7 linked regions of the Homo sapiens genome follow. The protein of the gene in region 1 purifies or fractionates together with the protein of each later gene. This does not show direct contact. Each region holds a gene or a part of one and is shown in the gene's direction. Other genes may lie near its edges. The genes, in order: VBP1, STK26, SGF29, SUPT6H, GSPT1, MALT1 and TTC33.

Region 1 (4,122 bases):
CACTCCAGCCTGGGCAACAGAGTGATGATACCCCGTCTCAAGAAAGAAAAAAAGGAAAAGAAAATGGGCCTTGGGACCAAGTCCTGGGAGAGGGGGAAATTTGCGTATCAAACTTAAATTGCTCTTCTAACTAGTAAATTAATGATAGACAAAAACAAAAAAAAGAAAAAAGTTATATTGCTAACTCTACAACTGTGGTATGTAGCAGGATACTCACTCTAGCTTAACATATGGTCTAGGCCTAAATGTGGGGAGAAGGGGTAAAAATTCAAAGCACTTAGGAAACATCAGTGAACGTTGGTGTTCTGGATGAGAACAGTGTTTGTCTAGTGTTTTAAAAGAGAATGGTAGAGTTGGAGATAGTGAGTTAGGAAAATTTTCTTGAGTTTTACCTATTTTAATAGTGGGTTGGTCATTTTTTTGAGACAGGCTTTCTCTCTGTTGCCCAGGCCAGAGTGCGGTGGTGTGATCACAGCTCACTGCAGCCTTGACCTCCTGGGTTCAAGCAATTCTTCCATCTCAGCCTCCCAAGTAGTTGGAGGGCTACTTTTCTCTTTTTATTTTTCTGGAATTTCTCTCACTCCTATGATGTCAGCTATGCAACAAAACTATTTTTGTGTCATGATCTAGTTGTTTTGCAGCAGATGGCTCTATGTAGTTTACATGCTAGCCTTTTTGTTTTTTTTTTTTTTCAATTTGCTATTATTTTATTTAGGATTTTTGAATTTCTGTTCATAAGTGAGTTCAGCCTATTTCTTTCTTTTTTTAATTTTTTTAGTATTGATCATTCTTGGGTGTTTCTCGGAGAGGGGGATTTGGCAGGGTCATAGGACAATAGTGGAGGGAAGGTCAGCAGGTAAACATGTGAACAAAGGTCTCTGGTTTTCCTAGGCAGAGGGCCCTGCCGCCTTCCGCAGTGTTTGTGTCCCTGGGTACTTGAGATTAGGGAGTGGTGATGACTCTTAACGAGCATGCTGCCTTCAAGCATGTGTTTAACAAAGCACATCTTGCACCGCCCTTAATCCATTTAACCCTGAGTGGACACAGCACATGTTTCAGAGAGCACGGGGTTGGGGGTAAGGTTATAGATTAACAGCATCCCAAGGCAGAAGAATTTTTCCTAGTACAGAACAAAATGGAGTCTCCCATGTCCACCTCTTTCCACACAGACACAGCAACAATCTGATCTCTCCTTCCTTTCCCCACATTTCCCCCTTCTCTATTCGACAAAACCTCCATCGTCATCATGGCCCGTTCTCAACGAGCTGTTGGGTACACCTCCCAGACGGGGTGGCGGCCGGGCAGAGGGGCTCCTCACTTCCCAGACGGGGCGGCCGGGCAGAGGCACCCCCCCACCTCCCGGACGGGGCGGCTGGCCGGGCGGGGGCTGCCCCCCACCTGCCGGACGGGGCGGCTGCCAGGCGGAGGGGCTCCTCACTTCTCAGATGGGGCGGCTGCCGGGCGGAGGGGCTCCTCACCTCTCAGACGGGGTGGCTGGTCAGAGACGCTCCTCACCTCCCAGACGGGGTGGCGGCGGGGCAGAGGTGCTCTTCACATCTCAGACGGGGTGGCTGGGCAGAGGCGCTCCCCACATCTCAGAGGATGGGCGGCCGGGCAGAGACGCTCCTCACTTCCTAGACGGGATGACGGCCTGGAAGAGGCGCTCCTCACTTCCCAGAGTGGGCGGCCGGGCAGAGGGGCTCCTCACATCCCAGACGATGGGCGGCCAGGCAGAGACGCTCCTCACTTCCCAGATGGGGTGGCGGCCGGGCAGAGGCTGCAATCTCGGCACTTTGGGAGGCCAAGGCAGGCGGCTGGGAGGTGGAGGTTGTAGCGAGCCGAGATCACGCCACTGCACTCCAGCCTGGGCACCATTGAGCACTGAGTGAGCGAGACTCCGTCTGCAATCCCGGCACCTCGGGAGGCCGAGGCTGGCAGATCACTCGCGGTCAGGAGCTGGAGACCAGCCCGGCCAACACAGCGAAACCCTGTCTCCACCAAAAAAATACGAAAACCAGTCAGGCGTGGTGGCGCGTGCCTGCAATCCCAGGCACTCGGCAGGCTGAGGCAGGAGAATCAGTCAGGGAGGTTGCAGTGAGTCGAGATGGCGGCAGTACAGTCCAGCCTCGGCTCGGCATCAGAGGGAGACCATGCAAAGAGGGCGAGGGCGAGGGTGAGGGTGAGGCTAGCCTTTTTCTTTGTATGTGTTGTAAATCTTGCAGCCTGTCATTTAACTTTACCCTTCAAGCTGTGTAAAAGTTCCTTAGTATTTCATGTGTTAATCTCTTTTTCGACACTTGAATCTGAGATCTTTTATCTTTCTTTAATTGGAAATTTTGTGATTATCACTTTTTCTATCGTCTGTTAATTTTTTTTCCTCTTTCTTTCTGGGATTCCTGTTTACAGATGTTGACACTTCTAATTCTGCCTTCCATTTATTTATATTATTTCCCTTTTTTCTGTCTTTGTCATTTATCTTTTGGCAATTAGATGGATAGCCATGAGTTCTTTGTTTCAGCTGTTAAGATTTTTATAGCTGGTAGTTCTGGTTGGTTCCTCTTCATATTACCAATATCCTTTCTTTTCTCTTTGTGGTATCTTTAAGTATTTAATGTATAGTTTTATCTTTTGGTATTTGTTAATTTTGTTTCATATGGTAGAGGTTGTTGAATTTATTGTCTTTATTTATTATAATGATCAAATTATAATGTCTTTTCCCTGTCAGCTTAGATTCCCTCAGGGATATCAGCTACTTTGGCCAGTAATGTACGTGGAGGTGGGGGTAATTTAAGTCACTCCTGGTGGGTAGCAGTGGCGCTACCTCGGCTCACTGCAACCTCCACCTCCTGGATTCAAGGGATCCTCCCGCCTCAACTTCCCAAGTAGCTGGGATTACAAGCATGCACCACCACGCCCAGCTAATTTTTTTGTATTTTTTTTTAGTAGAGACTGAGTTTCACCATGCTGGCCAGGCCGGTCTCGAACTCCTGGCCTCAGGTGATCCACCCGCTTCGGCCTCCCAAAGTGCTGGGATTACAGGCGTGAATCACTGTGCCCAGCCAAGCTACTTTCTCTTCAGGTGAAGCAGGGTAGGGAGGAGTGTATTGCTTGGGCATGTGCTGTGTCATTGGTGGTCTGGTTCCTAAGTTAGCTAGGGCTGCATCTGATTGATTCATTAATATGCTTTATAGCATATTACATATAATATTTATATATACAGAATGCATCTTAAAAGTCATTTACATGACAAAAAATCTTGATCTGAACATACTCCTTATGTTGTGTGTGTATCACATATTTTACAAATGTATAACATCTTTCTGTTTACCTATATGAACATATCATGCAAAAATAAGCAAACTTGAGCAATCTATGGCATCCAGATTGAATTGTAGTGAAAAAATGAATGCTAGGTGTTTCTAGATTATTCACTGGACTGTATTATCAAATGATGACACTATGTTTTTTTCTTAAGCAGCAGGCTCATTTAACACATTTCTTGCCAGGTCAGTAGCACAGGGTGTAGTAAATTTGCCCTGCCAACCTGCTGCACACATGGAGTGACTTCTTTTATGTGACGCAATAAGTTCATTTTCATTGTTGTGTTTATATTTTGTTTACATTTTGGTCTCTAATAATATTTAGTAAATTTACCTCGAAAGAACCAGAGCTTCGTTTTTATATCCTTAGTCTGTTTTGCTAGAAATTACATTTGACAGAGACCCTAGAACTGTTTTGCATATATCTCCATGCAAAACACATGCATCTAATTACCATAAAGAGCTAAACCCCAGTGACAAAAACGGTATCATTGTTTTCTCTCTTTAATTGACTGAATGTTTTTAGCATACTGTTTTTCTCTTATGTTCTTGTCAGTGAGGTTGATTGCATTTGGGAGTCACTTACTAGCATTTTGCTAGTAGCTATCATATAACTTATCCATTAAGTCGGATCAGTTGTATCATGTCCATCATTGTTTTTTTAAATTTCTTGTGTTTAAATCAGTGATCCATTTATAATTTTAAGAACGATCGTTACCTCATTTGAAAAGAAGAGCATTTATCAACATAAAAGTTAAGGAAGAAATACCCAAAGCTTAAAAGAATCACTAAATTATACTGT
Region 2 (4,122 bases), about 23 Mb from region 1:
TTTTATTTCTTGAAAAAGTTGTAGGGTTTTATAACAGCAGCGTTTACATTAAAAATTCAGCCTCTAAGTCTGTCAATTAATTTAGACTAGGAAAGTCTGTATGCTATGCCAGAATTTAGTCCTCCACCAGCTGAACTGGCACAAAGGCAACACCAAATTTCTTTAGATACTACTCTGAGATTCTTCCATTTATGAGAAATTGTCCAATGTTGGAAAGGGATAAAAAATATCAGAATAATTTGTGCCCTATTCTAATGGGTGTTAGCCTTAGCTTCCCATAAGAGTCACTCATGGAACCTTAAAGCAATCACAAGCCACACCACTGGAGATCCTGATTCAATAGGTGGGGAGTAGTGAGGGACAGGTATTTATCTATGGTAGGAGGTCTCAATGAAGCACACACAGAGTTGAGAACCACTCCACTACTACTCTGTAGTAAAATGTAGTATTCGCCTGAAGCTGAGATCAGATGCTTTTTTGCATCATGAGTTTTTAAACATTGGGACAATTATCCCTTTAGATTCTACCTGCATTGATTTGGTATTTTTGCCAAGCTGAATCATTTGGGCACTTATAGAGGTATCTTTGGCAATCTCTTTAGGGAATCTACCAGCAGGGAAAACAATACTCATCCTGAATGGAGCTTTACCACCGTACGAAAGAAGCCTGATCCAAAGAAAGTACAGAATGGGGCAGTATGTATATGGAGACAATTACTTACTCTTCATACAGTTTTTCAAACCATGTAGTGAGATGATAATGGCCTAAAATTGTTAGGATTGAATACCCCTAAATGCCTGTCTGCCTCACTGTGTTTGTAGTATGCTTCATTTGTCATTAGTTTTGAGCTAATTAAGAAAAGTTAATAGAAGTTATTTAAGTGGCCATATTGGTATTTTTTAAGTGCATTTCACCTGGAGATACATAAGCCCAGGGAATCATAGGTATCTATTGTAATCCCAGAAGTTAGAGGACTTCTGGATGATGAATGAGAATGAATGATAGGAAGAAAGCTTAGAGACTTGCCTTGCATACAATCTTTTGTTTTCAGTAGGGGATTCAAATTAGTTCGTATTTGTTAAAGAATAAGAAAATCATGACACTTATTTTAATTTCATGTGTATAATCTATATTATTTGTTCAAAGGAGCAAGATCTTGTGCAAACCCTGAGTTGTTTGTCTATGATAATCACACCTGCATTTGCTGAAGTAAGTACAGATTAATTAGCCTTGGATATCTGTGTTAAGTAGTATAATATTTTAAATGTTTTAACTATTATTCTTTCTCAGCTTAAACAGCAGGACGAGAATAACGCTAGCAGGAATCAGGCGATTGAAGAACTCGAGAAAAGTATTGCTGTGGCTGAAGCCGCCTGTCCCGGCATCACAGATAAAATGGTGAAGAAACTAATTGAAAAATTTCAAAAGTAAGTTGGAAATGTCATTTTAAAAATTATTTTGCATTTTCTGTTGTATGTTAATTTATGATGCAATGTAATTCCTTTGATTCAACCATTCCAATTATTCCTAACAAAGTCACCTTTCAATACATAGTTGTATACTTAAAAATAGTTTTTGTCTGTTGTCTATCTTAAACATTAGCTTTTAGAATGATTATCTTTAGGCATGACAAGGTAGTTTTCCACTGCATGAAATGACCTGTTTTTCTTTCTCCACTAGTAGGATTATAGACAAAAGGTCACTGAGCATATTCTCATTTGAGCTCTTATTAATATAATTGTGGAATGCTTTCTTTCTTGCCACTACCCTCAGAATTTAACAAAACACCACTAGTTGCATAGTTTCCAGTGCTAAAGTTCCTACGTTTGATCTCCATATGAAAAGTTAAGGAAAAGGTAGAGGGACTCAATCCAGACCAAAAAAGGGCTCTTATGTTCAACTTCAGTTTCTATGTTGTCTCTTGAAATATTCATTTGATTTTGTTCGCATTCAAAAAAGTTCTTACATTTAATTTTTTAAAAAATTTTCAACAAGACTTTTGTATGCATGCACACATATACACTCCTTAGCTCAAGCAAGCTATAAGGTGATACTGATTTTAGCCTTGACCCTGCTATATCTCTTCTCAGTGCATCTTTATATTTCTTTGTGTTTGTGATGCCACTGGGATCGAGATGGAACAAACTCTGTGACCTGTGAAATCACACACTCTCAAAGATCTTTCTATCTGATAAGGCTCACTTGTACTCGCAAACCTAACCCCCTCTTAAAATCCCTTATATTTTAATGAAAACCCCCCATTTGAAAACAAATCAATCGGAAGTTGTGAAATCAGATGCAGAAGGGATTTTTTAACTTGTTTATATTTTAACATCTACATGATAAGATTCAATAGAAACAATGTATCCCTTTTGTGGAATCAGTTTCTTCATTGCAGAGTTCATACAAAGGAGAAATATAAACATGCATAGTTGTACATTGGTTTAAATTTTTTAAAAATTTTATAGGTGTTCAGCAGACGAATCCCCCTAAGAAACTTATTATTGGCTTCTGTTTCATATGGACCCAGAGAGCCCCACCAAACCTACGTCAAGATTAACAATGCTTAACCCATGAGCTCCATGTGCCTTTTGGATCTTTGCAACACTGAAGATTTGGAAGAAGCTATTAAACTATTTTGTGATGGCGTTTATCATTTTATATTTTGAAAGGATTATTTTGTAAGGAATAACTTTTAATACTATAGTTTCACCTGTATTCTAGTAAATGTTGAGACACCGTTTTGCTTTTAAGTATCCCTATTTCTTAAGTTACGAGGATGAATACCTTTCACATTTTGATCTTTAGTTGACTCTACAGTCATGAAACATACAGGTCTTTCAAAGTCATTCTCAATATTCAGCTTTTGTAAATTATCAAGCTTCAAAAAGCTTTTTTTTTTAAAAAAAAACATGCATATTCTAAAAATGACTATTGGTGGGGAGGTGTAAATAAGTCATACCTTCTTAAAACAGAAAATTTAAGTAAAGTCTTTTAAATGAAACCTGTAAAAGTATTGACTCTTCTACCAAGTTGGTATGATATTCCAGGCAGCTCAATGATTATCACATTTGAGACCCTGTGTTTGAAGCATTTACAGGCAATGTACAGCAACAGAGGTACCTCTTGGTGTATAGTATTTACATTCTCTTTTAGGTAGAAGAGGCAATTTTACCCTTATTTCACATGGTTAGAAATTTAAAGCAAGATCATTTACCCAAGGATAGGTGTTTGGTAATGTTGAAGGAGTTAGTCTGGCTTCATGTTTTACATCTTCAACTAAAATCCCATACTATCTGCTTGGATTTGGAGAGCCAAAAAATAAAGCTGATTGTCATGTGATTAAATATCTGATCAACAGGTATGAATATAACTTAAATCAGCATATTTTTGCCATGGTAATAAATTGTCCTATAAACTATTTATATATTTTTGTTCTTCATAATTATCACTAATAAGCATCAGTTTGTTGTTTTTAAAAGGATATTTAAGTGAGCATTTTCTAGTTCATATGAAAATAACCATAGTACAGGATGATTTCTGTCCACACAAAGGTTAAATTAGATTGCACAGTTAATTTTCACTTATATTTATGGTACTATTATGTGGGTGATGCCTTTTTCTTTTAAGCCCAGTACATATATTATGCCTGCCTAAGTTCTGAACTGGGGCTGTATTTCAGTAGTTGTAGAATTATTGATATTTAGTTTTGATAGCTAATGTTTAATTGTTTGGATCTGCACAGTTTGGTTTTTGCACAAAAGTCATTTAAAAAAATCTGAGTAATTGTCAAATATTAAAAGAAAGATATTCTTCCTGTAAGGAATACAGTTTTTAGTCAAAGTGGCCATTACATCCTCTTTTTAATTTACATAATACAGATACTTGAGAAAGTTGTTGTGGTGTTGTATGCCAAGAAAATTCTTTTTATTGGTGCCTATATTGTAACAATTATTTTTAATGCATTGTATTTTGAAGTAACGGTTCAGTTAAATTTTTCACCTGCTGTGTAACTGAAACACAATTACAGTTTATAATCATCTGTAGAAGTCTGGAGATAATTTTGCAACTCATGTTATGGGTTAAATGAATATTTTTGTAAAAGTAAAAGCAACAAATTTA
Region 3 (4,122 bases), on another chromosome or scaffold:
TCGATCTCCTGACCTCAAGTGATCCTCCTGCCTCAGCCTCCTAAAGTGCTGAGATTACAGGCGTGAGCCACCACACCCATCCCTGCTGTGGAAATACTCTTTGGGAAGATTCCCTGAGCTTTAGGATGAAGGAGCCTCACTCCAGCCAAGTTCTGTGTTTGCTTCTGCTGGGTTCTTTGGGTTCCTGCCACCCTGGAATCCCCATAAACTAACTTCACAGAGGCTTCCTGGGGCTTCAAGGCCATGCAGGGGTCTGTCTTTGGGTTCAGCCTTTCAGAAAGGATGAGGTCCTTCCACCCAGTTCTGCTCTGGGCCAGCACCTCTCCCCAGAGTCTCCCCTCCTTTTGTGTGACCCTCGGGCAGACCTGAGGCCCCCTCTCCTCATTTCAGGAGGTTCCTGCAGCCTTTCTGCAGGGTTTGCCGAAGGCAGTTTGCCTGTGTCCTTTCCTCTCTGGGATCCTGTGTTCTCTTAGTTTTTGGCATGCTGCTTTCTACCACCTTGTTTTTTATGTTCTTAAGACTAAAAGACACATACTGAAGATTTCCAGTTTTCTTTTTTTTTTTGAAATGGAGTTTCGTTCTTTTTGCCCAGGTTGGAGTGCAATGACGCGATCTCGGTTCACTGCAACCTCTGCCTCCCAGGTTCAAGCGATTCTCTTGCCTCAGCCTCCCAAGTAGGTGGGATTACAGTTAAAGACGCTCGCCACCACACCTGGCTAAGTTTTGTATTTTTAATACAGACGGGGTTTCACCATATTGGTCAGGCTGGTCTTGAACTCCTGACCTCAGGTGATCCACACTCCTCGGCCTCCCAAAGTGCTGGGATTACAGGCGTGAACCACCACACCCGGGCAGATTTCTAGTTTCACCATGAGGTTGGTCTGAATAACCCAGCCCACCTTGACCAGAACAGGAACCTGCACACACCTGTCATTCCACCTGCGCAGGAGGCTACTGTGAGAACCTCTGGAGTCCGGGACCAGCCTGGGCAATGTAGCTTGACCCAAAACAGAAAAAATGGAAGAGAAGTCTATGCTATGTACGTTAACCAAACCCTCTTTCTCCCTTCTCCCCGCCCTCAGCATCCTTCGGAAAGCTCTGGACAAGATCGCGGAAATCAAGTCTCTGTTGGAAGAGAGGCGGATTGGTGAGTGGGAGAGAACATGCTGGGAGGTCCTTTGCTAGGACAAGAGGAGAGGCCCTGCGGGCAGCAGTCACCCTCCTGTGGGGGCCTGTGGCCACCACCTGCTGGCATCCTCCCATGGAGGCTCTGGCAGACTGGCTCTACCACTGAGAAGGGACAGGAGGTCATTCCCAGTGCCCAGAGGCAGGGGTTTCCCAGTTCTCCCTCAGCAGCCAGAGATCATCCCGCCCTGGCCCCTCATCTCCTGCCCCTTCTGGGGCCTGGGCCAGTCGCCCCCTCCTCTGCCATGGCCCATGCCCATCTGTTGCCCTGGCTGGTTTCTGCAGAGCCACACGCTGTGTGTCGTAAAGCCAGCCTTCCAGACCCCCTCAGCCTGCATTAGGCTCTCCTACCTGTCTGCCCTCCCAACAATCCCATGGTGGGCAGAATCTTGGCATGTCAGTGTCCCCACACAGCCATGCTGGTTCTGTGTGAAGTCAAGTGGGGTGTCCAGCTGTGCCTGAGGAGGTTGAAGGTGCACATTTAATTTTTTTTTTGGTTTTTTTAACTTTCTGTTGAATTACAATGTATATTAATAGAAGAAAAGTACACATAAGTGCAGAGTTCAATGAAATAGTCACTAACTGAACACACTTCTGTAACCAGCATTCAGATCAGCAAACACAGCCTGAACAGCACCTTGGAACCCGCTTTCTTTCTTCTGGTTCCTCCCCCTGGATCCCCGCTGTGCTGCCATCTCACCCAACTGTAGTTAAACCCAGCAGCCCCTATAGGTGCTGACACATGGCCGATGGGGTCACAGTCCTGCTGGGCCCTCGGGCTCACTCGGGAACTGGGGGCTCCCAGGTGCTCCTTCAACAGCTCAGTGCAGCATGCTCGGGGGTCAAGGCCGGCACCTATCCCTGGGGCCTCAGGCCTCCCTTCCTTCCCACAGCGGCCAAGATTGCCGGTCTCTACAATGACTCGGAGCCACCCCGGAAGACCATGCGCAGAGGGGTGCTGATGACCCTGCTGCAGCAGTCGGCCATGACCCTGCCCCTGTGGATCGGGAAGCCTGGTGACAAGTGAGGGCAGCAGCTGCGAGGGAGGGGCTGGTGCCCAGGGGCTGGGACTGACCCTTTGTTCCACTCACAGGCCCCCACCCCTCTGTGGGGCCATCCCTGCCTCAGGAGACTACGTGGCCAGACCTGGAGACAAGGTGGCTGCCCGGGTGAAGGCCGTGGATGGGGACGAGCAGTGGATCCTGGCCGAGGTGGTCAGTTACAGCCATGCCACCAACAAGTGAGTGACACCAACCCTGGGGCTGCTCTCTGGTCACCGAACTTGCCTGGGCTACGGGAGAAAAGCTCTGCAGAGGGTGCTCCCCAGAGGCTGGTTGTGCAGGGAGCACCAGGTCCTCCCCCATCCTCACTCCCCAACAGGTACTGCGCCCCTGGCTGCATCCAGCCTTTTCCTCCTTTTGTCTGCAGGTATGAGGTAGATGACATCGATGAAGAAGGCAAAGAGTGAGTGTCCAGGCCAGGGCAGGGCATGGAGCCTGGGGGCAGCCTAACAGCTGAGAAGGAGCATCCCCACCCGGCCACAGGTTGATATAAGCCCCTCTTCCCCCAGGAGACACACCCTGAGCCGGCGCCGTGTCATCCCGCTGCCCCAGTGGAAGGCCAACCCGGAGACGGACCCTGAGGCCTTGTTCCAGAAGGAGCAGCTCGTGCTGGCCCTGTATCCCCAGACTACCTGCTTCTACCGCGCCCTGATCCATGCGCCCCCACAGCGGGTAAAGCAGCCTCCAGGGGAGAGGCCATGGGTGATGTCAGGAACAGGCTGATCAGACAGACGAGGGGTCCTCTCCCCACTCCTTCCCTTTGTCCTCATCTCACAGGCTCCAAGCTGACAGGACCCACCAGCTGCCCTCCCTCTTCCACTCCAGCCCCAAAGGCCACCATCCCTTTGCCAGCCCTGGCAGCCTTGGCAAGCCCCGAGTCAGTGGCTTCCAGCCCCAGGAGAACCAGCTCCGAGATGGGAAGCTCCTGCCCTGAGCCCTGGGCTCCTACCGCCTTGTGCTCTTGGTGACATGGGACACAAGCCACCTGAGGCCAGGATCCCTGCCTGCCACCCTCTGGGTTGCCCTCAGTCCTCTCAACAAAGAGTCCTTGAAAGGCAGCAGACCCTCCAGCTATGACCCCACTAGGAAGGGAGTCAGCACCCCTACTCCTCCCTGCCTATTCCCTGCCTTGGGTCTCCAGCCACTGAGAAAAGAGCTCTGTAGCAGCAGGGACTGGGCCAAGACTTCTTGACCCCAGAGTGAAGGATGTTAGGAGTGGCTGAGAGTCCACGGCCCAGAGCCTCCTGTGGTCTAGGCTGGGGGAAGGGGGTGCCTGTCCTGGCCTGGGGGTCTCTGAGCAGCCCCTCCTGTCTGCCTGCCCCACAGCCCCAGGATGACTACTCGGTCCTGTTTGAAGACACCTCCTATGCAGATGGCTATTCCCCTCCCCTCAATGTGGCTCAGAGATACGTGGTGGCTTGTAAGGAACCCAAGAAAAAGTGATGCCGCCTGGCAGACTCGCCATCCCCCAACGACACAGGGCAGGACAGCAGAGGACGTGCTGGGATTAAACACATTCCCCCTCTACTCGTCTCCTGGGTTTTACTTCTCCAGACCCTCTCCCCTCTCCAAACAGGGCAAGTTGAGGAGCTGGAGCGGGGAGGTGGCCGTATTTGGCCCCAGTGGGCGATCACTCTTTCAGCTCAGGGTTTCTCTTGGCTTGGAATAGAGACTCTGCATTGAACACAAATCATACTTTATTCTGGAGCCTCTTGGTCAGGCTTGATTCGCACACTCCCTCTGCAGTGACTCCAGGAACCCCTCTCACAGCTCAGAGCGGAAGCTGAGGCTGCAGCCTGCCATCTTCTTCGCATAGTCCGCATCGAAGCGCTCATTCTGCGCCACGGTGAAGGTGGTCTTCCAGTCCCCAGCCATG
Region 4 (4,122 bases), on another chromosome or scaffold:
ATTGCAAACCTTATCCTCCCGTTTCACTGAGTGGTGCTCCTATCCGCAGGGTTACCAAAGATAGACCTCTGAGAATCATCTTTGTTCTTCTCCTTTACTACTCCTCTTCCCCAGTCTTTCAGTAAGTCTTGTCACTTCCACTTGCAGAATGTTTTTGTAATCTGTCTTCTATTCTCCATCTTCACTTTTACCACCTTATTCCAAGCCACCACCATCTTTTGCCTGGGCTACCACAACAGTATCTTCAGTTTTCCCTGGTTTCCACTCAGATCTTCCTCCAGTTCATTTTCCATGTAACAGAATTGGATCAGGGCAGATCATGTCATTTCCCTACTTAAAACTCTCCAGTGACTTTCCATGGCCTTTACGCCCTGCTTGAGCATACCTCTCCCTCATAGGCTGCTGCCTTCACCATGCTCTAGTGCCATCAGCCTCAGGACATCACCTATTATATACCATGTTCTTGCCCACTTTCTCTACTGGAACCTCTCCTCCTACTTCTACAGGTCATATCCTACCTATTGACATCTCAGCCTAAGTAAACTCACTTTAGATGAGATGAGAATATGCATTTCCTTCTTCGCTTTTAGAGCAAGGTTTATTTTATTTGTTGCCAATATGTCTCCTGCACCAGAATACGGGCATCCTAGGGGCATGGACCTAGTCTTGTACGTGCCTGGCATGTGGTAGGCACTCATTAAATACATATTTATGCCAGGCATGGTGGTTCACGCCTATAATCCCAACACTTTGGGAGGCTGAGGCAGGCGGATCACCTGAGGTCAGGAGCTCGAGCCCAGGCTGGCCAACATGGTGAAACCCCGTCTCTGTTAAAGATACAAAGAAAAAATTAGCTGGACGTGGTGGTGGGTGCCTGTAATCCCAGCTACTTGGGAGGCTGAGGCAGGAGAATTGCTTGAACCTGGGAGGCGGAGGTTGCAGTGAGCTGAGATCGTGCCACTACACTCCAAGCCTGGGCAATGGAGCGAGACTCTGTCTCAAAAAAACGTATATGTATATGTATATGTATTTGTCCTAGCTACCTGGGAGGCTGAGGTGAGATTATGGCTTGAGCCCAGGAGGTGGAGGCTGCAGTGAGATGTAATCACACCACTGCACTCCAGTCTGGGTGACAGAGCAGGACCCCATCTCAGAAAATAATAAGTTTTTGTTGGATTAGCAAGTAGATTAAGTTCAGTTCTACATTTAAAACCCTGCAATGGCTTCCCAGTGCCTAGATCCTTATGACTTCTCCAACCCTTATGAACCATTCTTCCTCTCCTGGGCCTTCTCTGTACCTGCCACAGTACACGTGTTGTGCTAGAAGCACACGTCTCTGACATCACTCCCCAAACCATCTCCAAAGAAGCCAGCTCCTCTGCTGAACTAATTCCTCCTTACTCTTAAGGTCTTTGTTTAAAGTCACTTCCTCAAAACCAGGTTAGGTTGTCTTATTACAGGATCCCATGCTATTCTTATCATCAATTCTCTAAATCAGGGGTCACAAACTAAGGCCTGTGAGCCAAATAAGGTCACCCCCATTCATTTACATGTTATGTATGCTGTGCTACAGTGGCAGATTTGGCCCTATAGAGAAAAGGAAAGGTTTGCCAACCCCTGTGCTAGAGCAGGAACTATGCGCTCCTCAATGTGTGTACCACAAGGTTCAGTAACTGTTAATCTCTCTTTGTGTTGCAGGGGTTCTGAATCTGGTTACATATTTCAGTTGTACTCTTCTTTAGCCCTTACCCTGTTTCTCTAAAGAAATGTGGAAAGAAAAGGAATACTTTTTTTTTTTTTTTTTTTGAGACGGAGTCTCGCTCTGTCACCTTGGCTGGAGTGCAATGGCATGATCTCGACTCACTGCAAGCTCTGACTCCCACGTTCAAGCGATTCTCCTGCCTCAGCCTCCTGAGTAGCTGGGATTACAGGCGTGCACCACCACACCCGGCTAATTTTTGTATTTTTAGTGGAGACAGGGTTTCATCATGCTGGCCAGGCTGGTCTCGAGCGTCTGACCTGACCTGAAGTGATCAGCCTGCCTCAGCCTCCCAAAGTGCTGGCATTATAGGCGTGAGCCACCGCGCCCAGCCGAATAAATAATATTTTTAAATGAACAAAATTAACTTTTTCTGTATTTTAACATCTTGACTTCATGTAATTAGGTTTTCAGGGTTTTTTTAATTACAAAGCCTTCTGAATTCCAGATTTAAAAGGACTTAAGTAGACTCTAAATACTTTTATCTATTAAACTTTTAGGTTTTGAAATTCCAAATTGGATATTCACTTATGGATACCTTTGGAATAGTCCTAGTCCCTTGCCCATAAAATATAGGATACAAGTGTAATCCCAGCACTATGAGAGGCTGAGACGGGCGGATCACAAGGTCAGGAGATTGAGACTATCCTGGCTAACACGGTGAAACCCCGTCTCTACTAAAAATACAAAAAAAAAAAAATAGCTGGGCGTGGTGGTGGGCACCTGTAGTCCCAGCTGCTTGGGAGGTTGAGGCAGGAGAATGGCGTGACCCCAGGAGGCGGAGCTTGCAGTGAGCCCAGATCATGCCACTGCACTCCAGCCTGGGTAACTGAGCAAGACTCCGTCTCAAAAAAAAAAAAAAAAAAAAAAAAGTGTGTGTGTGTATATATATATATATATATATATATATATATGTATGTGTGTGTGTATACATATGTATGTATATGTGTATATATGTGTGTGTATATATGTATATGTGTATATATATATAAATACGTGTGTGTGTGTGTGTTTTATATATATATATGTATATATGATACAAGACAACATGGAATGTCTTGTAGCTTAAACTCCACCCTAGACTTCTGGGGCTGTTCTCCAGAGCACCACGCCTAAATGTTTGCTCATGTTGCCTTTTTCCAGACTGTTTTCTTAAATCCTCTTTTATTCAGGCATCACCTTTTCTCAGATATTCCCCAACCTTCCCATTGCTCTCATAGTCCAGTTATATAACTTAACATAACCCTATTGTGCTTTGTCATAACGTTATTAACAAGTTTTTTGAGATAGATTGTGAACTCCACCAAGACTGTGAACTCCACCGGGGTAGGAAGCATATTTTACTCATTTTTATATACACAAGTCCCAGCACAGAGCTTGACTCTAAAAAAAAAAAACCCAGCAAATGTTAATTGAAGCTGCAAAGTGGAAGGAATTAACAGACTAGATCTCTTTTCACTCTGGTCTCCTCTTAATTGCCTACTACAACTTCTTGTTCAAAGGGAGGGACTGCAGAGGGCCTCCCTTGTGGCAATCTGATCCCAGTTCCATTCCTCTTCCAGCGAATGTCATGGTAACCACCAGCCTCTCCCATTGAGCCACATCTTGTTCTGCAGCTGTGCTTCTGACTAGAGAAACCTCTCCCTCCATCTCCCCACTGCCCTTCTAGACCTATTCCAGTTGCAAATTTAACTTACAGTGTGAGTATGGGGAAAATTTTAAGAGCATAAGTGCTAAATACAACATCCAAACTACATCAGGCTCATCATAGATACCATGTATTAATAATAATCATACACAAATAAATACATTAGTGTCTTTATTCTAGAGTAGTTCCCGCTTGTCAGTCTCAGACTGCAGTGCTACTGCAGTCTGCACATCTAGCTCCTGCAAGTTGCAGCAAGTCAGAATTGCTTCTGGCACACCTCTTATAACTGGAAGTCTTGGTATTGAGCTAGATTGGAGGCATTCCCCAGCTATAGCATAGTGTGTGCTTTATTGCTAACCTAGGCGATGGGAAGAAAGAGAACACAGCTATCTTTCCAAGCTGTGTGCAGCATGGAGCACCAGCTGCCCTTGAGACAGAAGAAAGCTGTTGTTTTCATCAGGTAGGCTGTGTGTTTCTCTGTTAAGTAGGCTGAGGGGCATCTGGTCTGCAGGAGCTGGCATTTAATTTGAAGATGTTGAGGCCTTAAAAGATTGAACTTGTGGGTCTGATAGCCTAATTAGAACAAGCTATGTGTGGGGGCTGCCGTACTCAAATCTGTTTTTAATGGCTCAGTTCAGGGCTGAGGGGGAGCAATGTCAAAATTAAAATTAGAGCTCTAGATTTAATTGGCAGAAGTTTAAGACTTTCACTTTTG
Region 5 (4,122 bases), on another chromosome or scaffold:
CGACTTTACCAATTGCTTGTACCAAAATGCCAGTTCATGTTTTTAAAAAATTATCCTATGTAGGATGTCTATTTGGAAAAGAACTGATTTTCTAAGTTGAGGTCCAGGGTTATATTGAGACTGTTGGATTGCATGTTCCAGACTATTAAGTCCATAAAAAGCCAGCATCGGAGAACAATCAGTGCTTATAAAAAGCAGGGGGATAAATAGGAAATAACACCTGGATTGGAACTTACAAAGGGGGAACCAAAAAGTTTGCAAGGTTTTTTTGATAGCGAGGAAGTGGACAATAGGGCTAGCATGTTCTGTTCTTTAGTTAAGCCATAGCCGAAATTTGTGCTGGGTGTGTTTTTAAACTGCATGCCGGGAAAGCTGTTGAAGGAGCCTGGAGAGTCAGACCTTGGGATTCAGTATTGACCTTGGATCTCTTTGAAAACTAAAGAATATAGGTTCCTTAAGAAATAATTAAGTGGAACCCATTTAAGTGTAATTAAGTGTAATTCATTTAAGCACAGTTCTCTAGAGCCAAGTAAATTGGCCAAGAGATTCTCCTTAAAAAGTGAGGTCCCCAAGTGAATAAAAATATAGAAGACAAGGCTTAATGTATATTAGAACAAGCATTTTATCTGATAGGATGTATTTAAGTTGCAATTTGCACCTAGTTTTTTTTATTGTTAGATAAGAAACTGGTTTAGTAATTTTAGGGTTACTTGAACTTTTTAGAACAGCCAGAGCTTCTAAAGTAATGATGTGGTGTTCTTTGCATCATCCCACCTTTAATGCTTCTCAGAACTCACTGCCATTAAGAAACAAGCATGGAATAAAACCAGCAGCCCTCAGTACTTACTTGGAGGAGGCACTGTCTCCAAAACTTAGCAGATTGTATTGTGGAACTTGAATTTTAAAGAGAAACATTCTGTTTTGTAGTGTTCCGTATTTGCTGAATGCCTTATTTATTGGAAGAGGAGGTTTTTTTTTTGTTTTTTTTTTTTTTTGAGACGGAGTCTTGCTCTGTTGCCCAGGCTGGAGTGCAATGGCACGATCTCGGCTGACTACAACCTCCTCCTCCCAGGTTCAAGCAATTCTCCTGCCTCAGCCTCCCGAGTAGCTGGGATTACAGGCACCTGCCATCATGCCCAGCTATTTTGTGTGTGTGTGTTTTTGCAGGGATGGGGTTTCACCATGTTGGCTAGGCTGGTCTTGAACTCTTGACCTCAGGTGATCTGCCCGCCTTGGCCTCCCAAAGTGCCGGGATTACAGGTGTGACCGCGCCTGGCCTTTTTTTTTTTTTTTTTTAAATGATTGACATTTAACTTACACACTGTAAAATTCACCCTTTTCAACTGTACAAGCTGGGCGCATTGGCTCACACTTATAAACCCAACACTCTGGGAGGCTGAGGTGAGAGGATTGCCTGAGGCCTCCATAAAACATAGTGAGACTGAGACCCTGTCTCCACAAAAAAAAAAAAAAAAAAAAAAAAAAAAATACAGCTGGGTGCAGTGGCTCATGCCTGTAATCCCAGCACTTTGGGAGGCCGAGGTGGACGGATCACCTGAGGTCAGGAGTTCGAGACCAGCCTGGCCAACGTGGCGAAACCTGTCTCTATTAAAAATATAAAAATTAGCCAGGCATGGTGGTGCGCGCCCGTAGTCCCAGCTACTGGGGAGGCTGAGGCAGGAGAATCACTTGAATCTGGGAGGCGGAGGTTGCAGTGAGCCGAGATCACACCACTGCACTCTAGCCTGGGCGACATTGACACTCTGTCTCAAAAAAAAAAAAAAAAAAAAATAGCTGGGTGTGGTGGCACAAACCTGTAGTCCCAGCTACTTGGGAGGTTGAGGTGGGAGGATCTCTTGAGCCCAGGAGCTGGAGGCTGCAGTGAGCTATGATGGCACCATTGCACTCAGCCTGGGTGACCAAATGAGACACTGTCCAAAAAGAAAAGTAAAGTGTACATACAGTTCAGTGGCTTTTAATATATTTGTAAGGTTATGCAACCATCACCACTTGGCAGATGCTTTTTAGAATATTCTCAGTTTTAAGCTGGAACATCTCAGAAGTGACCTCTTCAGGGCCACCAGAGTAGAGAGGATTCCAAATCAAAGTAATGGTTGTTTAATCCAGAAAGGCCCTTACACTTTATTAATATGTTAAATTCTATCTGTTGAGGTAGATAATAGGTAAGATTCTGTATTTGAGAATGTGTTTTTGAGACTGAAGTGCCTGCAAGAACAGTGCTCATATAAAGGTGTTTTTAGGCTTCAGTGGGACAGCAGATGGGGTAGAGGAGAGGCCCCACAGTATCCCTGGAGTATCACAGTAGTAAACACTGCCTTTCGTTACTTCTCCTGCCATGGCTGACCTTTTTGTCTCTTGTTTCATGGTTTTACACGTATGAATGGCTTGAGACTGAGGATTTAGGGAAGAAGCGAAGGCATCATCTAGGGCTGTGCTGTGCCAAGTTGAGCAGTTGTTTAAACTGTTAGAATTTTTGACTGGTGTAAAAACCCTCTTTGGAGCAGGTATTACGTAGTGCTGTCAGTACATATCTTATTGCATTCTTCTGTTCTTTATTTTTTACCTTTTCTGAAGTTGCACAGCGTGAAAAGACAGCAATTTCAGTTTGAACAAGTTAAGGAAGTAATGTAGACGACAAAGTTTAAGCCTTGATTTGCTTGCTTTGGTTTGCTGGGGAAGAAATGTCTGAAAGTGTTCAGATAGTATTTTCTTTCTGGTTGAAGAGAAAGGAATGAAAAAGAGATTTGATAACCTTCTGGGTTGAGTTAGCAGTATTGGAATGGAATTTTTTTCCAGAAATGCGAATTTCTGGTTTTGCTCAGATATATGTACTAGCGACTCATTAACAAACATTTACCAGTCCACTGAATGAAAGATGCTATGCTAGGCACTTGAAATAACACCAAGATGAATAAATTGTGGTCCTGAAGGAATCTAGAAAGGGATCAGATGCCCAGTGTACTCTAGTGGAAGTCACAGTGTGGTAAGTGAGCCCTGCAGAGAGTGTAGAGAAGGCTTTCAAAGCCGAGAACAGCAATCCCTTACGTAAAACCTCTCAGTCTTGTCACTCTCATAAAACTAAAGATTTATCTATTATCTGCTCACTGTTCTTTGCGAATGCCTTGTGTGTATTTTTTTTTCTGGCCTCCTGGGCCAGAGTTGCAGCCAAAGCCTGATCACCAAGGTTGTGTGTATTTTAAAAAACTTTTTACTTATTATTTTTTAGAGACGGGATCTTACTTTGTCACCCAAGCTGGAGTATAATTGTGTGATTATAGCTCATCGTAACTTCAAATCCCTGGGCTCAAGTGATCTTTCACCTCAGCTTCCTGAGTAGCTAGGACTATAGGCACCCACCATGACGCCTGGCTAAGTTTTTTTGTTTGTTTTTGTTTTTTGAGATGGAGTTTCGCTCTGTCACAGGCTGGAGTGCAGTGGCCCTAACTCGGCTCACCGTAACCTCTGCCTCCCCAGGTTCAAGCGATTGTTCTGCCTCAGCTTCCCAAGTAGCTGAGATTACAGGTGCCCGCCACCACGCCCAGCTAATTTTTGTATTTTTAGTAGAGATGAGGTTTCACCATGTTGCCCAGGCTGGTCTCGAACTCTTGACCTCAAGTGATCCACCCGTCTCGGCCTCCCAAAATGCTGGGATTACAGGCGAGAGCCACTGTGCCTGGCCAAGTTTTGTATTTTTAAGTTTGTCGAGAGTGCTGAAGGTAGAGCACTGGTTATCTTTTTACAGTACTTGTCTATTTCGTATTAAACAGCAGTGAGTTCAGTTACTATGAGTCTGGCTAGTGTGTCTATTGGGGCATGTTTAGAATTTCATCATTCTACCCTTGGTTTTAAAATATCTTCGGGAGACAAGAATTTGGCTACTAGTTGAAGGATCTGAGGTCCTCAGAACAATCAAGAAAACTGACAGTTTTTAGCTGTTGATTGTTGATTCATTTCAAGGCTTAGAAGTTTCTGCCTTGTTTTCAGTAGAGTTTAACAAAGTGAGCCGAGACTGTAGATTTATATGGCTCCTTCGTAAATGGCTTTGTTCTAAGGAAACCTAGTTGTTACAGTACTCTAAGTTGAACCAGTTTCCCATCATAA
Region 6 (4,122 bases), on another chromosome or scaffold:
AACGAGTACTCTGGTTAGGGAAGGTTCTGGGCTTCCTGAAGAAAGCCAGGTATGGAGGACTCCTACATGGCCATGAAGGAGAGAGAAGAAAGTCAGCAAGGCCCTGCCAGGGAAGAAGCGTGGCTGCTGGAATCCAAAAGCAGCGGATACTTGATGTTGGGTGTTGTGTTTTCCTCGCCTGCCTTCAGTCAGTTTTTGTTAAAGGCTACAAAATGGTCTTAGCTTTGTTTGGGGGAACTAAAGGAAATATTTGAGGCCACTTTTCTGTGGAGTCACACAGAGAGAAGGGGACAGTTGCCTAACAAGAGGTGGCAAGCACAAAGGGCATGCAGTTGTGGAATCTGAGAATTTGGGGTGGGAAGTCTGATGAGAGGCAGATGAGTTTCACCTGTCTTTCAAGATGGTAAAGATTAGTTTTGAGGAGGTTGGCTGGGGTGAGAAGGGTTGGAGAATTTGGGAACGTTAAGCTCATCCCTATGGAGATCAGAAGAATTAAACGGACTTTTTTTCAAAAAACAGCACTGGGAGCTTGGGGGCTGGACAGTGAAGCAAGGTCAGCTGGGGATGCTTACTCTATTTAAGACAAAAAAGTTATTGTAAAGTGATTTCATGCTGTTGGGAGAAGATCTGTGATACTAGAAGGTCCTAAAGGTATTTTTTCTCTGGTGCCAAAGACAGGAATTATAGTGTGAGTGTCTAGTCCGTGTGGGTGACAAGTCCCACGAGGCTGTGAAGTGCTTTCTTCAGTCACTGGATCTGCAGCCCTAGAATCTCGAAATGTTGCCCATTCTGTTTCTTTTTCTTCTCTTCACTTTTTTTTCTGACACTTTACATCTTTCCTCAAACTGGGTGAAAATTTAATAATACAAATAAGTAAACCACAAGAAAAGAGCCCGTTCAAACTGTCTACAAGAGATTAGAAATAATTGTAAATGTTTTCATTGCTGATGACTCAGAGTAAATCCTTGTTGATAGCTTAGTTCCCCACAACCATGTACATTTGGGAATGTGCTATAGTCAGACCCGGCCCTGATTCCATTCAAGACTGACCTGGACACCCTTTGCTGTTAGTGTAGATAGACACAGACTCTGAGGGTCTTGCCCAAGCTATGTAAATTCTTTGGTGGCATGGAACATCTGAGCCCTAAGGATGGCAGACCTTCCAGGAGGTTCTAAATGCTGCCTAAAATTCTGTTAAGTAGGGAGCTTAGAAATGGGGCTGTGGAACCTGGACCATGGAAAAACAGTCATTGCATACCTGCTGAGTAGAAGGTGCACTTTTAGCTGCAGAAATCCTGCTTTCATGCAGTTTATTATAGGAATGAGAACGTGTAAAAGGCTCTAACAGAAGGTTTCCTCCCAGCCTGGGAAACATACTGAGACCCTGTTTCTACAAAAAAACAAAAAATTAGCCAGGCATAGTGGCACAGGCCTGTAGTCCCAGCTACTCTGCAGGCTGAGGTGGGATTGCTTGAGCCCAGGAGTTCGAGGCTGCAGTGAGCCTCAACAATTATTATTGAAATTCATTCAGTAATCATTCATTTATGAATAATTAATATGGACAAGACAGAATTTTATTGATTTAGGTATTGTCAACCTCCAGCATGGTCGACAGAGAAGACCTTGTCTCTAAAACAAATAAACTAAAAAAGGTTTCCTTCTCGCCCTCTTGGTCTTATCCTTCAGTCCCATGACTTTACATTTATTTGGGTTGATTACTCCTAATTTCTATTTCCAGCCCATTTCTCTGCTTTGAACTCCTAGATTCACGTATGTAAACACTTGTTTGCCATCTTCTCTTGAATGACTAAGACACGTCTTAAATATAACATGTCCAAAATTTAACACGTCTTCCCTTATAAACCTCTTTCTTTCAGTTTCTGCACCCTCTGGTTGTTCAGTCCAAAAACTTCGAATTCATTCCTGACTCCACTTTTACACACAAATCGTTTTTGTCAGCCCATCCTTCCTGCTGTACCTTCACTATATATATGTAGAATCCAATGTCCACTGCTGGCACGCTGGGCCAAGCCACGTTGTCTCTCAACTAGATTATTCCAGTAGCCACTTAACTTCTCCCTGTTTTGCTTTGCTCCCACCCCAGTCTGTTACCAATATAGCAGTAAGAATTATTCTTTTAAAACATCACATCAGGTCTTATTCCTCCTCTGCTCAAAACTCTCCTATTGTGGCCAGGCGTGGTAGCCTCACACCTGTAATCCCAGCACTTTGGGAGGCCAGGGTGGGAGGATTACTTATGCCTAGGACTTCAAAACCAGCCTGAGCAACATAGATAGACCCCATTAAAAAAAAATGCCAACTCTCCTATTGTTTTTCCATCTCAGAGTAAAAACACCATTAGCTACCAGTTCACTCTTCAACCTGATATCTTCTTGTCTCCATCCCTCTCTACTCTGGTCACATGTGCTTTCTTGCCTTCCTTTGGACACAGTAGTCTTTGTACTTGCTGCCTACTCAGGCTGAGATGGTCTCCACAGGTAACCACATGACTTGTTCACCTCACTGAGCTCTTCTCTGATCATAATATTTAAAATTACCCTCTACATCTGCTCAGTGTTACCTGTCTACTTGCGTTACCTCCACAACACTTAAGACCATTGGTTAGTTGGATACATACACAAAAAGATATCTCTGTGTTTATTTAAATTTATGTCTGTACTTCTCTAGAATGAAAGATCCAGGAAGATACAGAATTTTGTTTTGTTTGCTGCTGTATCCTCAACACCTAGAAAAAACAGTGGCCTATTTTAGGTGATGGAGAAATAGATCAAATTAATGAATAAAGATTCCAAATAGTAAATGTACCAAGAGGAGAAGCAGAAGAACCTAAAAACAGCATTATGGTTTGTCCCCTAAAGGGTGTATAATACATTCTATTTGATTATATATTTTTTTAAAGATAAAAATAGAGATATTTTTAAAAAGTAAAGTACATTTGTTTCAGTCATAAAGCAGTTTTTAAATTAAATCAAAAATTCTAAATTAGGACTTTCAGAAACTACTTCAAAGCACACTCTTACAGGAATGTAACTTAAAAAGGAAAGAAAGAAAAGTTAGGTATGTATAAGCATCATCTTAGCTGAAAGCCAGTGCCCATACGGAAAATCAGTAAAAACAAAAAGAGATACAGAGTCTTCTTTTTCTCCTGTGCCTCTTGTAATGGAAGAGAAATCATCTGTACTTCAATTTGATCTTTGTTCTTTTGGGGGGGAAGGAAAGCCAAGTGTTTTTAATTTTCTCTATATCAATATAGACATTAATTAAAGCATCACTTGGTTGCATTTGATGAGATGGCTTCTTAATTTCATTTATCAGATCCTGGTAAACTTCTGAATCATAAAAATTATATTTAGCATACAGCATCCCTATTTTTACAAATCTCATTCTAATTATTTACAAAATTAGTAATCCTTGTATTGTTTCTAATACAGGTTCTTTCACTTGGGTATTTCAGAAACTAGTAAAATAAAATTTCACAAAATAAGAGCACTAACAGGCAGCTTCACCTTTTTATGTTTTCTGTCATCATAGTCACCATTGTTTCTTAAAAGAAAGAACACTTTAACACCTAAAAATGGAAAAGACAATTTTAGAATAAAAGACAGCTTTATTGTCCTTATTTTTATCATTTTACCTTGGACTGCAGATTGTGCTGCCACTGGTCTACAGTCCAGAATTTGAGACTGGTTGACTTGTGATATGATGATTCACATTTAACAAGAATGGCATATTGAATATAATAAAATTGAACTAGGATGCTTAGAAAAGAATACCTAGTAAATATAGTGATCACAGGAGGCCTTAGAGGACATTTTCAGGTTACCAAAATAATAGTTACTCAAAAAAATGTTTAAGGAAAAGCTAAAATTGTTTCAGAAATAAGCATAGTTAAGAAGTTAGCTTTAATATTCTTTTAATATCCCCATATTCTTATTGCATAATAAGAGCTAACCTTTATTGAATGTCTGTTACTTGCCAAGCACTGTGTTAAGCACTTCTTACATGGATTAGCTATTTAATTCTAACAACCCTATGAGGTAGATAATATTACTAATGAAATTAATTTGATCGTATACATTTTTTCCATATGAAATAATCAAC
Region 7 (4,122 bases), on another chromosome or scaffold:
TATCTTAAAAAATGAAAAGGGTTTTTTATGTAGTTGCTAGTTTATGAATATTACTGACAGATTTTTTGGTCTTTTTTTGCCTATAGGTGCTAATGTCTCTTCATGAAATGTTCCCAGCAGTACATGCAGCAGAAATGGCCGTCCAGCAAAATCCACATTCATGGGAGTCTTGGCAGACTTTGGGACGTGCTCAACTTGGTTTAGGAGAGATAATCCTGGTGAGGAAGTCAGATTATTATAATGCAGAAATTTTAAGTATATTTTGACTTTTTTTTTTTTTTGAGATGGAGTCTTGATGTCACCCAGGGTACAGTGCAGTGGTGCAATCTCAGCTCACGGCAACCTCCGCCTCCTGGGTTCAAGCGATTCTCCTGTCTCAGCCTCCTGTGTAGCTGGGACTATAGGCATGCGCCACCATGCCTGGCTAATGTTTTTGTATTTTTAGTAGAGACGGGGTGTCACCATGTTAGTCAGGCTGGTCTTTAACTTTTGACCTCAAATGATTCTCCAGCCTCGGCCTCCCAAAGTGCTGGGATTACAGGCGTGAGCCAACATGCCCAGTCTATTTTGACATATTTTTGATTAACTGAACCCAAAAGTGAATAGCCGTTTATCAAGTCTATACAAAAAACAATTAGCAAATTACTTCTTAAAGGTATTAATCCATAAACACAGTTCACAGGTATTACTGAACATCTTTTTTATTATAGACACTAATTATATCATGATCAGAATATTTTTCAGTTACTTGACATCATGGATATTAAAAAAAATTTAACATAAAACATTGGCATTTGGTAAACCTTATTTAAATAGACAATAGGCAACTTTTTGGCTTAGTTCTTTGGATCATTACATTTACCACATTATAAAGTGGTATTAGTATCACTGTGGAGACAAAACCGCTGATAGATTATACAGGGGAAGGAAGACAGTAGAATATGGGAGGGTAATGGTGATGAACATTTAGACTGAAAAGTTGTTAGGCTTATTGAGGGGATAAAGAGGAAGAGTAGAAATGTGTGCAAATGAAATACTCATTGTGTAATGTTTACCGTAAACTGGTACCTAATGCATCTCTCAATTTGTCTGGACTATACCTTGTTAGTAGCAGAGGCTATCTAGGTAAGAATTAGCTGTGACAGCTGTCCTGTTGTTTTTCTTTTGGCAGGGCTATATACACCTGATAGCTAACGAAATTTAACTTCCTAACAAGTGTTTGCAAATCTAATATACAGTGCCAAATTTCCTCCTTGTTATTAAGTAAATTAAGATTTTAAAAATGGTTTTATTTTTTACAGTTCAAAATAAAACATTTTAAAAGTTTCTTGCAAGACTAAAATTACTGATAAATTCAAAATATAAACTTACTAACAGTGGTTTTAGTAAATTGTGGATGACTGAGCTTTTTTTCTGGCATTCTTATAAATGTATCATTATTTCTACTTACCAAAAAAGGTGTTTGTCAAATTCTCAGAAATAGTAAGGAATTTGTATGAGAAAATAATTGATTTGATTAAAGTAAGTTAATGATAATCTAAATGAGATTCACAGTGATAGAAACCATTTTAACCAAGTACTGTTTTTTTCTTGCCATTTAGCACTGTCAACTTCTCTCTTTTTACATGAAGACTTAAATCATACCAGAGTTGGAAAAAAGAGTTCAAAGAATTTAGTTTTCTAACATTAACAGGGGAAGAAAACCCTATCATATAATACTTTTTCCTTGCCTCCCTTATTAAAAATTTATACATCACTATCTCTTTTGCCAATAGTGTCTATGGTAATGGAACAAATCTCTAGGACATAATATTTAGTAAAGATTGTCCTTTATAAAGAAAGAAAATACACTGCAGGTGAGACGGAGATACTTTGAATCATCCAATAAAAATAATTTAATATTTAAATTTTTTTGAATAAGAGTACCAGTTCGACTTTTTTTTTTTCTGTTGATATGGCTCTATTCATTAATACTGTGAAATTCTTAGAAGAATTGAAAGTATTTTTTTTTTGCCATTTAAATGTAATTTTTAGGAATCTTCTCTGTTTTTATGTAGATTTAAGCTGTTCTCTTAAAAGACTAGAATGGTAAAAAAAAAAGATGACTCAAAATGTCATAACGAAGGGACACTATGTAAAATATATTGAAAGCAAGCTAGAATTTCTAATATCTAACAATTCTTACTATATATACATATGGACTAAAACCATAGGAAATTATGTATGTAAATAGCACAGGCAGTAAATTAAAAGTCAGTAGTTGGGTATATCTCCATGAATAATTATTTAAACTTTGTAAGAGTTGGATGTGAACATTGGAAAATGTTTATAGGAGATATATATATATAAAATATGTATGTATATGGTATACATTTTATATATATATACGTGTGTGTGTGTGTATATATATATATATATAAAAGACTTTATGAGAATGAGATTTTAAGAAGTGGAAGGATGAGAGAATAAGAAAGCTGAAGCCAGGCGCGGTGGCTCAAGTCTGTAATCCCAGCACTTTGGGAGGCCGAGGCGGGCGGATCACAAGGTCAGGAGATTGAGACCATCCTGGCTAACACGGTGAAACCCCGTCTCTACTAAAAATACAAAAAATTAGCTGGACGTGGTGGCGGGCGCCTGTAGTCCCAGCTGCTCGGGAGGCTGAGGCAGGAGAATGGCGTGAACCTGGGAGGCGGAGCTTGCAGTGAGCTGAGATCGCGCCACTGCACTCCAGCCTGGGTGACAGAGCAAGACCTGTCTCAAAAAAAAAAAAAAAAAAAAGCTGAAGAGAATGGTTCTGGGAGTTAAAAATTCTGTATGAGGGAATGGGGATGGTGAGAAAGGAATACATAAGGGATTTATCCTGAAGAAGAAGGTAGAGAGGGAAGGAGACTGGGAAAGGTAATGAATACCAGGAGGTAACAGTATCAGGAAGGATTCTTCTGTTGGCTTTCCAGGGTTCTCAGCCTTCAGTGCTGGAACTAGCTTTGTGGCTTCCCTTCTTCGGGCTCTGTGTAATTCATTGCCAGCTTTTGCTTTTCTTCATGCCAATGTGCAATAAATACTAATTTTGTTTACTAATGTTTTCTCTGTTTTCCAAGTCTCATTTTAGCCATTGGTTTTAATATTTTGCATGAGCAAATCTTTAATTAGAAATTTCAGTTGCATCATTTGATTCTTTTTATTGTTTCGCTTTTGTAATGGTAGTAATGGGATGGACAAGTGATAATTTCCAGACAAAAGGAAGATGATTGAGAGTTTTTAAAATTTCACTTGAGGGGCTGGGCATCCTGGCTCACGCGTATAATCTCAGCACTTTGGGAGGCTGAGGCAGAAGGATTGCTTGAGGCCAGGAGTTTGGACCAACCTGGGTAGCATGGCAAGATCCTATATTTACAAAAAAAAAAAAAAAAAATTTGGCTGGGCATGGTGGCTCATGCCTGTAATCCCAGCATGTTGGGAGGCTGAGGTGGGTTGATCACCTGAGGTCAGGAGTTTTGAGACCAGCCTGGCCAACATGGTGAAACGTCGTCTCTACTAAAAATACAAAAATTAGCCAGGCATGGTGGTGTGTGCCTGTAGTTCCAGCTACTCAGGAGGCAGGAGAATATCTTGAACCTGGCAGGTGGAGGTTGCAGTGAGCTGAGATCGCACCACTGCACTCCAGCATGAGTGACAGAGTGAGACTCCATCTCAAAAAAAAAAAAAAAAATCCACTTGTAAATTTTTAGTTTAGTTAATTACTGTAGACATTGTTTGAGTCAAGCTGCATTATCTTTTTTATAATTGAATAGTACAAATTCTTGAATTATAGTCTTTATAAATGTTGTATGTTGACACTTAAGAATTGAGTTTTTTTCTTGAAAAATAAAGTTTGTTTATGAGCTTTATTATTGTTCTGTTTTTTTTTGTTTGTTTGTTTTTTGTTTTTTTGAGATGGAGTCTCGCTCTGTTCCCCAGGCTGGAGTGCACTGGTGTGATCTCGGCTCACTTCAACCTCCACCTCCCGGGTTCAAGCCATTCTCGTTCCTCAGCCTCCCAAGTAGCTGGGACTATAGGCGTGTGCCACCATGTCTGGCTAATTTTTGTAATTTTAGTAGAGACAGGGTTTCACCGTGTTGGCCA

The links.
Region 2: the proteins of VBP1 (region 1) and STK26 purify together in Homo sapiens (affinity purification with mass spectrometry; 2 studies listed by BioGRID and IntAct, with this or other methods). This does not show direct contact.
Region 3: the proteins of VBP1 (region 1) and SGF29 purify together in Homo sapiens (affinity purification with mass spectrometry; 2 studies listed by BioGRID and IntAct, with this or other methods). This does not show direct contact.
Region 4: the proteins of VBP1 (region 1) and SUPT6H purify together in Homo sapiens (affinity purification with mass spectrometry; 2 studies listed by BioGRID and IntAct, with this or other methods). This does not show direct contact.
Region 5: the proteins of VBP1 (region 1) and GSPT1 purify together in Homo sapiens (affinity purification with mass spectrometry; 2 studies listed by BioGRID and IntAct, with this or other methods). This does not show direct contact.
Region 6: the proteins of VBP1 (region 1) and MALT1 purify together in Homo sapiens (affinity purification with mass spectrometry; one large-scale study listed by BioGRID and IntAct). This does not show direct contact.
Region 7: the proteins of VBP1 (region 1) and TTC33 purify together in Homo sapiens (affinity purification with mass spectrometry, with the first as the bait; one large-scale study listed by BioGRID). This does not show direct contact.

The regions. Positions count from the first base shown.
Region 1 is NC_000023.11:155,222,439-155,226,560, forward strand, and holds part of VBP1 (prefoldin subunit 3), read left to right. Parts: intron 1-4,122. UniProt on the Homo sapiens protein: Binds specifically to cytosolic chaperonin (c-CPN) and transfers target proteins to it. Binds to nascent polypeptide chain and promotes folding in an environment in which there are many competing pathways for nonnative proteins.
Region 2 is NC_000023.11:132,071,667-132,075,788, forward strand, and holds part of STK26 (serine/threonine-protein kinase 26), read left to right. Parts: intron 1-601; coding exon 602-695; intron 696-1,146; coding exon 1,147-1,209; intron 1,210-1,290; coding exon 1,291-1,427; intron 1,428-2,468; coding exon 2,469-2,493; 3' UTR 2,494-4,122. UniProt on the Homo sapiens protein: Serine/threonine-protein kinase that acts as a mediator of cell growth. Modulates apoptosis. In association with STK24 negatively regulates Golgi reorientation in polarized cell migration upon RHO activation.
Region 3 is NC_000016.10:28,588,018-28,592,139, forward strand, and holds the end of SGF29 (SAGA-associated factor 29), read left to right. Parts: intron 1-1,082; coding exon 1,083-1,147; intron 1,148-2,078; coding exon 2,079-2,208; intron 2,209-2,278; coding exon 2,279-2,425; intron 2,426-2,613; coding exon 2,614-2,649; exon of another isoform or gene 2,650-2,654; intron 2,655-2,755; coding exon 2,756-2,918; intron 2,919-3,023; coding exon of another isoform or gene 3,024-3,035; exon of another isoform or gene 3,036-3,572; coding exon 3,573-3,689; 3' UTR 3,690-3,773; downstream 3,774-4,122. Other genes in the region: SULT1A2 (sulfotransferase 1A2), read right to left, coding at 4,011-4,122. UniProt on the Homo sapiens protein: Chromatin reader component of some histone acetyltransferase (HAT) SAGA-type complexes like the TFTC-HAT, ATAC or STAGA complexes.
Region 4 is NC_000017.11:28,664,764-28,668,885, forward strand, and holds part of SUPT6H (transcription elongation factor SPT6), read left to right. Parts: intron 1-3,769; exon of another isoform or gene 3,770-3,867; intron 3,868-3,885; exon of another isoform or gene 3,886-4,122.
Region 5 is NC_000016.10:11,909,221-11,913,342, reverse strand, and holds part of GSPT1 (eukaryotic peptide chain release factor GTP-binding subunit ERF3A), read left to right. Parts: intron 1-4,122. UniProt on the Homo sapiens protein: GTPase component of the eRF1-eRF3-GTP ternary complex, a ternary complex that mediates translation termination in response to the termination codons UAA, UAG and UGA.
Region 6 is NC_000018.10:58,674,058-58,678,179, forward strand, and holds part of MALT1 (mucosa-associated lymphoid tissue lymphoma translocation protein 1), read left to right. Parts: intron 1-3,552; exon of another isoform or gene 3,553-3,589; intron 3,590-4,122. UniProt on the Homo sapiens protein: Protease that enhances BCL10-induced activation: acts via formation of CBM complexes that channel adaptive and innate immune signaling downstream of CARD domain-containing proteins (CARD9, CARD11 and CARD14) to activate NF-kappa-B and MAP kinase p38 pathways which stimulate expression of genes encoding pro-inflammatory cytokines and chemokines.
Region 7 is NC_000005.10:40,724,441-40,728,562, reverse strand, and holds part of TTC33 (tetratricopeptide repeat protein 33), read left to right. Parts: intron 1-86; coding exon 87-218; intron 219-4,122.